Linked DNA regions of Homo sapiens: region 2 is linked to region 1. Evidence: fine-mapped expression QTL. Tissue or cell type: whole blood. Region 1 holds a variant in brackets; the other region holds the start of a gene. All regions are shown on one strand. Distances are from middle to middle.

Region 1 (4,241 bases):
TCATTTTTCTTAACTTATGATGAAGTAAATCTGTATTTCAAAGCGAAAGTGTCTAAACTTATCTTCCTTTAGGTCTTGATCTTAGCAGTCAAATCAAGGGCTGTCTCGTGACTGCTTCAGCTGACAAATACGTGAAGATCTGGGACATCTTAGGAGATAGGCCAAGTCTAGTTCATTCTAGGGACATGAAAATGGTAAGAATCTCCCTGGGTATCTGTTTTTTATTTATTCTGTTTCTGACCTTGTCTTTTTCTGGAACTTGTGTTGCGTGTTTTTCTGTTGGAACTATTGCATTAACAAATATGGATGTGTTGGGGAAGTGAATTTTGAGTTTAGTCAAATTTGGTGGGATTTTATGACTTAGAACGCTTTGTGGGGAATTCAGTGACTGGTTCTTTTCCAACTCACATGATTAACAGTTGCTTGGTAAGGCTGGGGAGAGGGTTTTCTAGGACACAAGTGAAATGGCTGCTTTTTTTTTTTTTTTTTAAAACCCTGAAATCAAGACCATCCCAAGAAATCTTGAACCTCAGGGCACCGTAGCTATTAGGGTCAGTTTATGTATCTTTATCTCTTTGCATAACTAGTTCTGACTACACTGAAACAAATTACTATATAGTAGGAAAAATTTAGAAATAACCAGATTCACTCAAGAAATATTTACTGAGCACCTACTGTATGCCAACCACTGAGTTATATAAGTTAGACTGCAGACACAGTAACACTGCACAGCTGTTGAAAATTGTGTATGAATAAATATATATAAATATAATGGAAAAACAGGTTACAGAAGCAATTTTTGTAGTACCATCTCATGCTTATTTTTAAGTGCATAATTGCCTAAATGCTTACATTTAACTCTAGTAGATTATATCCCAGAACATAAACCGTGGTTACCTCCCTGAGAGATTTTCATATATTTTTCTTGTTCATATTTTCTATAACAAATATATATTACCTATTAATAAAAATGTAAAAAAGAAAACAAAGTTTAAAAATGATTTAAACTGGCATCATTGTTATTGTTTAAAAGGACAGCTAAAGTTTCTGGAAATACATGGCACATTAGGTTTGTTAGGAAATCCCTAAGAGACAGAGTGATAACGAAGATGAGTGGCCTGAGTGGTCAGAAGTTGCAGATATCATTGTGGAAGAACCAGCATGCTGCGCTTGTCTGGCTTCATATTGTAGTACTAGCCCTTCTGACTTGACTCTGAGCTACCTTTGCAGTAGGCTTGAAAGTGAGAATCATAAGTTGGTTTTGAATAACCATTTAAATCATAGATTCTTAGAGACAACAGTGAGGATCTAGATATTAGCGCTTTCTGAAGAGATTGAAATCACCATCTTCCTGTTCTCTCTCTAGGGAGTTCTCTTCTGTTCTTCATGTTGCCCTGATTTGCCATTTATTTATGCCTTTGGAGGTCAAAAAGAAGGGCTTCGGGTCTGGGATATAAGCACAGTCTCTTCAGGTAAGGATTTTTAGTTCTCTGCACACCTCCCCCTGCCCCTGTAAAAAAAAAAAAAAAAAAAAAGACAGGGTCTCACCATGTTGCCCAGGCTGGTCTCAAACTCCTGGCCTCAAGCAATCCTTGGTCCTCAGCCTTCTGTATAGCTGGGATTACAGGTGTGAGCCATCATGCTGGCCTCTCCTCTTTCTGAATGAGTTCTGTAAGGACTGACACAGAATGTGTGACTTGAATTGTTTCTCAGCATTTTGGCTAAGACCAAGTGCAGAATGTGTGTCCTGACTACATCAGGAAGATAGCAAAAGTAGTGTAGTCTTTTTAGGAAAGAGACAAGATCAGATGTAATTGGTAATGTTTGTTCATGTTCACAAATAAGTTTGTCTTCACACTTTTAAGTGTAGATCATTTAAGGCCGAGACCAGCTCGGTTGGGGAGACCCTAACCCAGTGGCGCTAGAGGAATTAAAGACACACACACAGAAATATAGAGATGTGAAGTGGGAAATCAGGGGTCTCACAGCCTTCAGAGCAGACAGCCCCGAACAGAGATTTACCCACATATTTATTAACACCAAACTAGTCTTTAGCATTGTTTCTATAGGTATTAAATTAACTAAAAGTATCCCTTATGGGAAACGAGGGATAGGCCGGATTAAAGGAATGGGTTAGGCTAGTTAACTGCAGCAGGAACAT[G/T]CCCTTAAGACACAGATCGAGATCGCTCATGCTATTGTTTGTGGCTTAAGAATGCCTTTAAGCAGTTTTCCACCTTGGGCAGGCCAGGCGTTCCTTGCCCTCATTCGTAAACCCACAACCTTCCAGCTTGGGCGTTAGGGCCATTATGAACATGTTACGGTGCTGAAGAGATTTTGTTTATGGCCAGATTTTGGGGGGCTTGTTCCCAGCAATTTAACAAATACATATCTTAAAATTGAAAGATCTTTGGGGAAAGCTGGAAAGAAATATAGCATGGTCTCAACAAACAGCCCTCTCCCCCACAGTTACCAGTGTGAATAAATCCACCGTTTGCTCAACTATAAAATTCTACAAAATCCAACTTTCCGGAAGGGGCCACTCCTCTCCCTTCAGGGGATCCTGGCTGCTTATTTATTACTTTGAGGTAGTCTGGTGCGTTCTACAAACACAGAGATAATATATATATCTCCCCACTGTATGATTCCTGCATCCTCCCTCCCATGCAAAACAAGGATCCTGAGATTTTTCTCTGGGTTATTCTGATGTGTGTGAGTCCTAAGTCCGAAAAGTTCTGTGCCGGTTATGATCAGAGAAAAGTGAAAGAAAAAAATAGGAAGCAATCAGAAGTAGAATAAGGCCAGGAGAGGGTCACTTATAAGGAATGGGACATTTGTTACCAAGGCGGATCAGATAAATCCAAGACATGGCAAAGAAAGTAAAGTACAAAAATAAATTGGACCATTTAAAAAAATAATTCACTTCATTCAGAACATTAACTTGGACTTCTGAGTTGGTTACTCACTTTACCATTTATAAAGTACTAAGTGCACAATTCTGCATTTTAGTGTCTTTTTATATTCTGACTTAATTTCCTGATCTGTTAGTTTCTTACCTGTTTATTTGTATTTTAGTAAATGAAGCATTTGGAAGACGAGAGAGGCTTGTTCTTGGGAGTGCAAGAAATTCATCTATTAGTGGCCCTTTTGGCAGCAGGAGCTCAGATACACCCATGGAGTCTTAATGAAGATCATCTAATTTCCTGCTTACCTTAACTGGGAATTTTAAAAAGTTGGCCTAAAAATGTTCCATGCGTGGCAGCAACCATGCAGAGTGACTGAAACACAATTCATTTCTGACTGACATTCCTTTCTGCAACTGCGGTGGCACCACAAATATCCGGTCTTTGTGCTTGCTCTTCAGATGGATGGTTTGTAAGGCTCTTGTTGCATTTCTTAAAAAAGAGTAATAAAAAGGATTTTTAAAAAGTAATTCCTTAAACATACCATCTGTCACAGTTAATCTAGATTTGTAAATAGGTAGTAATTTATAGAATTTTTAAAGCGTAAAATCCGGTAATATTAAAAGATAGGTAAACCTAGGCCTGGAAAGGCTGTTATTTGGCTAAAATTGCACAGGAGGCCATGAACAGAGGCAAGTGCCCCAGAGACTCCACTTTCATTCCTAACTGTTCTCAAATTAATGCTCATGATTGAGTATTCTCAGTGCAACTCGTAGAGTTTGATAAGTAAAAGTTACATGCCCCTGTTTTCCTAGCATGATATTCACTGTTATCAAAGACAAGAGGCAGACCATTCATTCATTCTCAAAACACTGAATGCCATTCTGTGCCTAGTGCTATACAAGGCATGGGAGATTCAGTGTGAATAAGTCTTTGCTCTCCACCTAACAAGGGACAGTTTTAATTATAGATTGTCTTCCTATTAAGTATGAGTTTTAGTAGGCATTAAAAATCGTAATTAGTTTGATAATATGAGACCCAACCCTAACTTGCCAGAAGAGTAATCAGTTCATGAACCATTGATATTTCCTGTATATTTCATGAATGTGACTTCAGTCATTCTAGTGTTAATACTGTGGAATGTCATTGGTGTAGCAACGTGGGTTCACCAAAACACCTTTTTATACAAAAGACAGATGTGTGAATTAAAGAGATTAAAGGATAGAGTATTCTGTTTCTTTGTTTTGATTTGGCTTTTAGGTATTAAAATAAGGCCCAGATCACTAAAAATTAGTAACAGAGGGAGACCTCTAATAGATTTAAAGTCAGTTAATTCTCTCT
Region 2 (4,241 bases), 25 kb before region 1:
CTGATGGTTTTATTAATTAATTAATTTATTTTTATTTATTTTTATTTTTTGAGACAGAGTCTTGATCTGTTGCCCGGGCTGGAGTGCAGCAGTGCGATTTCGGCTTACTGCAACCTCCGCCTCCTGGGTTCAGGTGATTCTCCTGCCTCAGCCTCCCAAGTAGCTGAGACTACAGGTATGCACCACCATGCCCGGCTAAGTTTTATATTTTTAGTAGAGACGGGGTTTCACTACGTTGGCCAGGCTTGTCTAGAACTCCTGACCTTGTAATCCAACTGCCTCGGCCTCCCAAAGTGCTGGGATTACAGGCATGAGCCACTGCACCCAGCTGAGATCTGATAGTTTTATAAAGGGGAGTTCCCCTGCACATGCTCTCTTCTTGCCTGCTGCCATGTAAGACATGCCTTTCTTCTCTTTTGCCTTCTGCAGTGATTGTGAGGCTTCCCCAGCCAACTGAAACTGTGAGTCCATTAAACCTCTTTTTCTTTATAAATTATCATGTCTTGGGTATGTCTTTATTAGCAGTGTGAGAACAGACTACCACAGTAGCCAAACTTTATATGGTGGCTCAGGGCTCCAAACATTAGTGTTCTACTGGTGGGCAGTGGGGGAGTGGGTGGGGGGTGTGGAAGTGGAGAAGTGGGTGTGGTGGTGGGGAAGCAAAACCTGCATCCTATTTATGACTTAACCTTGGAAACATCATTTCTGTCATACTTTATTGGCCAAAGCAGACCTACAACTACCCAGATTCAAGTTGGTGGGGGCGGGGGGGGGTGCTTTGATGGAGGAATATCAAGATCACGTTGCAGACAAACATGTGTGAAGGACTCTATTGTTGCAGCCATCCTTGAAAAATATTATCTGCCATATGGTCTTTCTAAAATGGGTTAAAAGCAAAGAAACCACAGAAGAATCATCTTACAGAAACAGAGCAGGGGGAGAAGTCTTAATGGACAAATAATCTGCCTACACAAACAATGAGCAATTTACTTCTGGGAGGATCTCTCCTCAGGCAGGGAGATTGCCAAGCGCATTAGGCTGAGTAGAGTTGGTGACAGAACTCATAGTTGTATCAGCTCCTCTGTGTGTGATCTGAGTAGGAAAGTATTTGACTACTGGGGACTCTAGCTTCATCTTTAAAACAAAGTGTTGTGAGAACCAAGTAAAATACTGTATAGAAAGATAAATGTGTTGCAAAAAGGTCCCCGAATAGAGCCCACAGGTGGACACCCCCCGTTTGACAATGCCACTGGGAAAGACCATGTGTACTGCCAGTTTATCCTTGCCACTGTTTCCCCATAGCAGCCACCTTCCTGTTTCTTTTGCTTGCCTCTCTCAGAGGTAGATGCATTGAGGGTAAATGACCAGGACAGGGCCACACAGCCAAGAGATCAAAACCCAGATTTTTCTGGGATGCTAGTTTGAGATTTTCCATTCTACAAACGTCCAGCCACTCACGAGTTCTAACAGATGACTGATCTTAGCTGAGAAGCATGACATAGATACAAGGGAGTCACACTGCCCGGGTTCATATCCCAGCTGCACCGCTTACTAGCAGTGTGACCTTTGGAAGGATCGCTGTTTTCCCAGGTGTAAAACGGAAATAAGACCTCCCACAAAGGGGTAAGTAATCACGTGATACGGCACTCAAAACAGCGCCTTCAACATAAGTAAGCCCTTTGTGTTTGCCAAGACTAAATCACTACTGCATAGTTAGTATATAATTGGTGCTAAATGTTTTTTTCTCACTTTTTTTTTTGGTGCTAAATGTTTTAAGGTGAGAAAGTAACATTTAGGGATGTAATGAGATGTAATGGTGGGATCTCCGTGAAACGACAAATTCATTTTGGAGAAAGCTTTTTAAAAAACGCAAACCACAAACCTCTGCCATTTGTCAGCTTGAAGTCTACGGAACTGCAAGCAAAATAAAGATTGGTGAAACTTTGCTTCTGACTGACCCCTACAGTCCCAAATATTTTCTTGGCCTTTACAAAGCCCGCAGGCATCGTCACATGCAGTCCTGAAAAGCCTTTTCTCTATACTTCACACAGCCCAGACCAGCCCACGTGGATTCCTCGCCCGGCTGCTTCCGCTTCCATTTTGTCCCCTCCTATTTCTCATTCGGCGCCTCAGAATGACGTCTGAAATGAGCGCCGACGCTGCCCAAACAGGAGCCTGCGCATGCGCTCTGCCCTGGCAGCGGCCCTGTGCAGATCCCTGAGCGTGTGGCAGCAGTGCGGTCGTGGTCCCTCCCTATGCAGCCTGGTTTCTAGCGTGACACGCCCTTGACTTGAGGACCATGAACCGCAGCCGCCAGGTGACGTGCGTGGCCTGGGTCCGCTGCGGCGTGGCCAAAGAGACACCAGACAAGGTGAGGCCTGGTCGCTGGGAGACAAGGGGAGCAGCGTCTTTACGGCACTGGGGGTCCGCCCAGCTGGGGGAACGTGGACCCGGAACTCGGGGCGTTGGCTGGTGCGACTGGCTGGGGTGAGGGCGGCTTTGCCCGGATTGTCGCGACTAGAGCTGCAGTTCAGAAGGTCTGGTTCGCCTGAGCCTGGAGAGTCAAGGGCCGCGCCTTCTCACTGTTCCCACCCTCAAGCCCAACCCCACTCCCAAATTCGCACGCACATGGACTTAGCGGGCCGGAAAGGGGTGGGCTGCTGTTTTTGGTGGGTAATACCCCAAAAGGCTTTTTGACAACACCACTAGCTTCACTAGCACCCAAGTGCATTTTCAAGCATAACTGGGAAGAGAGCATGAAAACTCCACTTTCCACTCTTGTGCTCCGTGTCTGAAGGAGTGAGGATGAATGTGGTGTAGAAAAACTGGTGTGGAGGCTAAGATGTCGTGAGGCTGGGAGATGAATAGGGAATTTCTTGCAGTAATCCAAGTGAGATGTTGATGGTAGCAGGGAGGATGAGAGGTAAATGTCTAACACATGAAAAACCTACAAGAGTTGGAGACTGAGACTGTAGCAGAGGTGACGATTACTTAAGTAATTTCCTCATTGGATACTAAGTGCTTTCTGTAGGCCAGGCATTGTTCAGGGTCCTGGGATAGGCATGAACAAAATAGAAAAAGTCCCGCCGGGCGCGGTGGCTCACGCCTGTAATCCCAGCACTTTGGGAGGCCAAGGCGGGCGGATCACGAGGTCAGGAGATCGAGAGCATCCTGGCTAACACGGTGAAACCCCGTCTCTACTAAAAATACAAAAAATTAGCCGGGTGTGGTGGTGGATGCCTGTAGTCCCAGCTACTCGGGAGGCTGAGGCAGGAGAATGGCGTGAACCCGGGAGGCGGAGCTTGCAGTGAGCCGAGATCGCACAGCTGCACTCCAGCCTGGGCGGGCAACAGAGTGAGACTCCGTCTCAAAAAAAAAAAAAAAAAAAAAAAAAAAAAAATAGAAAAAGACCCTGCCTTTATGGAGTCGACATGTGCACATATAGTATGTCAGTGGGAGTTAAGTTCTACCAAACAGTAAAAGGGGTTGATTTGAATGTACTTGACCAAGATAATGATGATGGTGATAGGAATGTGATTGGCTTGGACATGGAGTTAACAGGAATGACGGATTGGAGTAGTCCCAGTAGTTGTAAATTCCACCTGGGCACAGACTGTTTTATTTACTGTTTCTCCAGGGTTTGGTTGATGGTAGGCACTCGGTGTTACATTTATAGAATAGGGACAGAAAATTATTTCATATAAAAATTGTTGGAGGAAACAGTTATTAAAAAGAGACATATAGCCTTTCAAATACTTGAAGACTGATTTCCAAATGAATCTACACATTGAAAATCTCACACTTGGGGAGGTTCAAAAAATACTGATGTTTATGTCCCACTCCCAAGTATTGTGTTGTAATTAGCCTGTAGTGTAGCCTAAATTATTTAAGATTCCCTAGGTGATTCTGATGTACAGATAAGTCTGGGAACCACTATTTGAAGAGTTTATAGGAAAAAGAGATTGAATTTATGAAATCCTAGAAAGGAAAACTTGGACCAAATGAGAGAAATTGGACAAGCCAGTTGCGGTGGCTCGTGCCTGTAATCCTAGTCATTCAGGAAGCTGAGGTGGGAGGATCGCATGAGCCCAGGAGTTCACAGCTGCAGGGAGCTGTGACCATGCCACATCTCTTAAAAATTAAAATTAAGGCCGGGCACGGTGGCTCACGCCTGTAATCCCAGCACTTTGGGAGCCCGAGGCAGGTGGATCATTTGAGGTCAGGAGTTCCAGACCAGCCCG

The links. PIP is the estimated chance that this variant, and not a neighbour inherited with it, causes the effect.
Region 2: PWP1 starts here. The variant in region 1 is fine-mapped to the expression of PWP1 in whole blood (INTERVAL, PIP above 0.99).

What each region holds. Positions count from the first base shown.
Region 1 is chr12:107,709,039-107,713,279 of GRCh38, forward strand. PWP1 (PWP1 homolog, endonuclein) reads left to right here. Exons shown (of 15, transcript NM_007062.3): 13 at 73-194; 14 at 1,367-1,472; 15 at 3,073-4,124. The coding sequence ends at 3,182. It overlaps LOC124903010 (a long non-coding RNA gene), which reads right to left. Exons shown (of 2, transcript XR_007063446.1): 2 at 3,344-3,392. Among named protein-coding and RNA genes, the nearest start is that of PWP1, 25 kb to the left of the region's middle. The variant G/T (reference allele first, on the strand shown) is at 2,162.
Region 2 is chr12:107,683,601-107,687,841 of GRCh38, forward strand. PWP1 (PWP1 homolog, endonuclein) reads left to right here and starts at 2,199. Exons shown (of 15, transcript NM_007062.3): 1 at 2,199-2,371. The coding sequence starts at 2,300. RefSeq lists enhancers at 2,008-2,267, 2,488-2,537.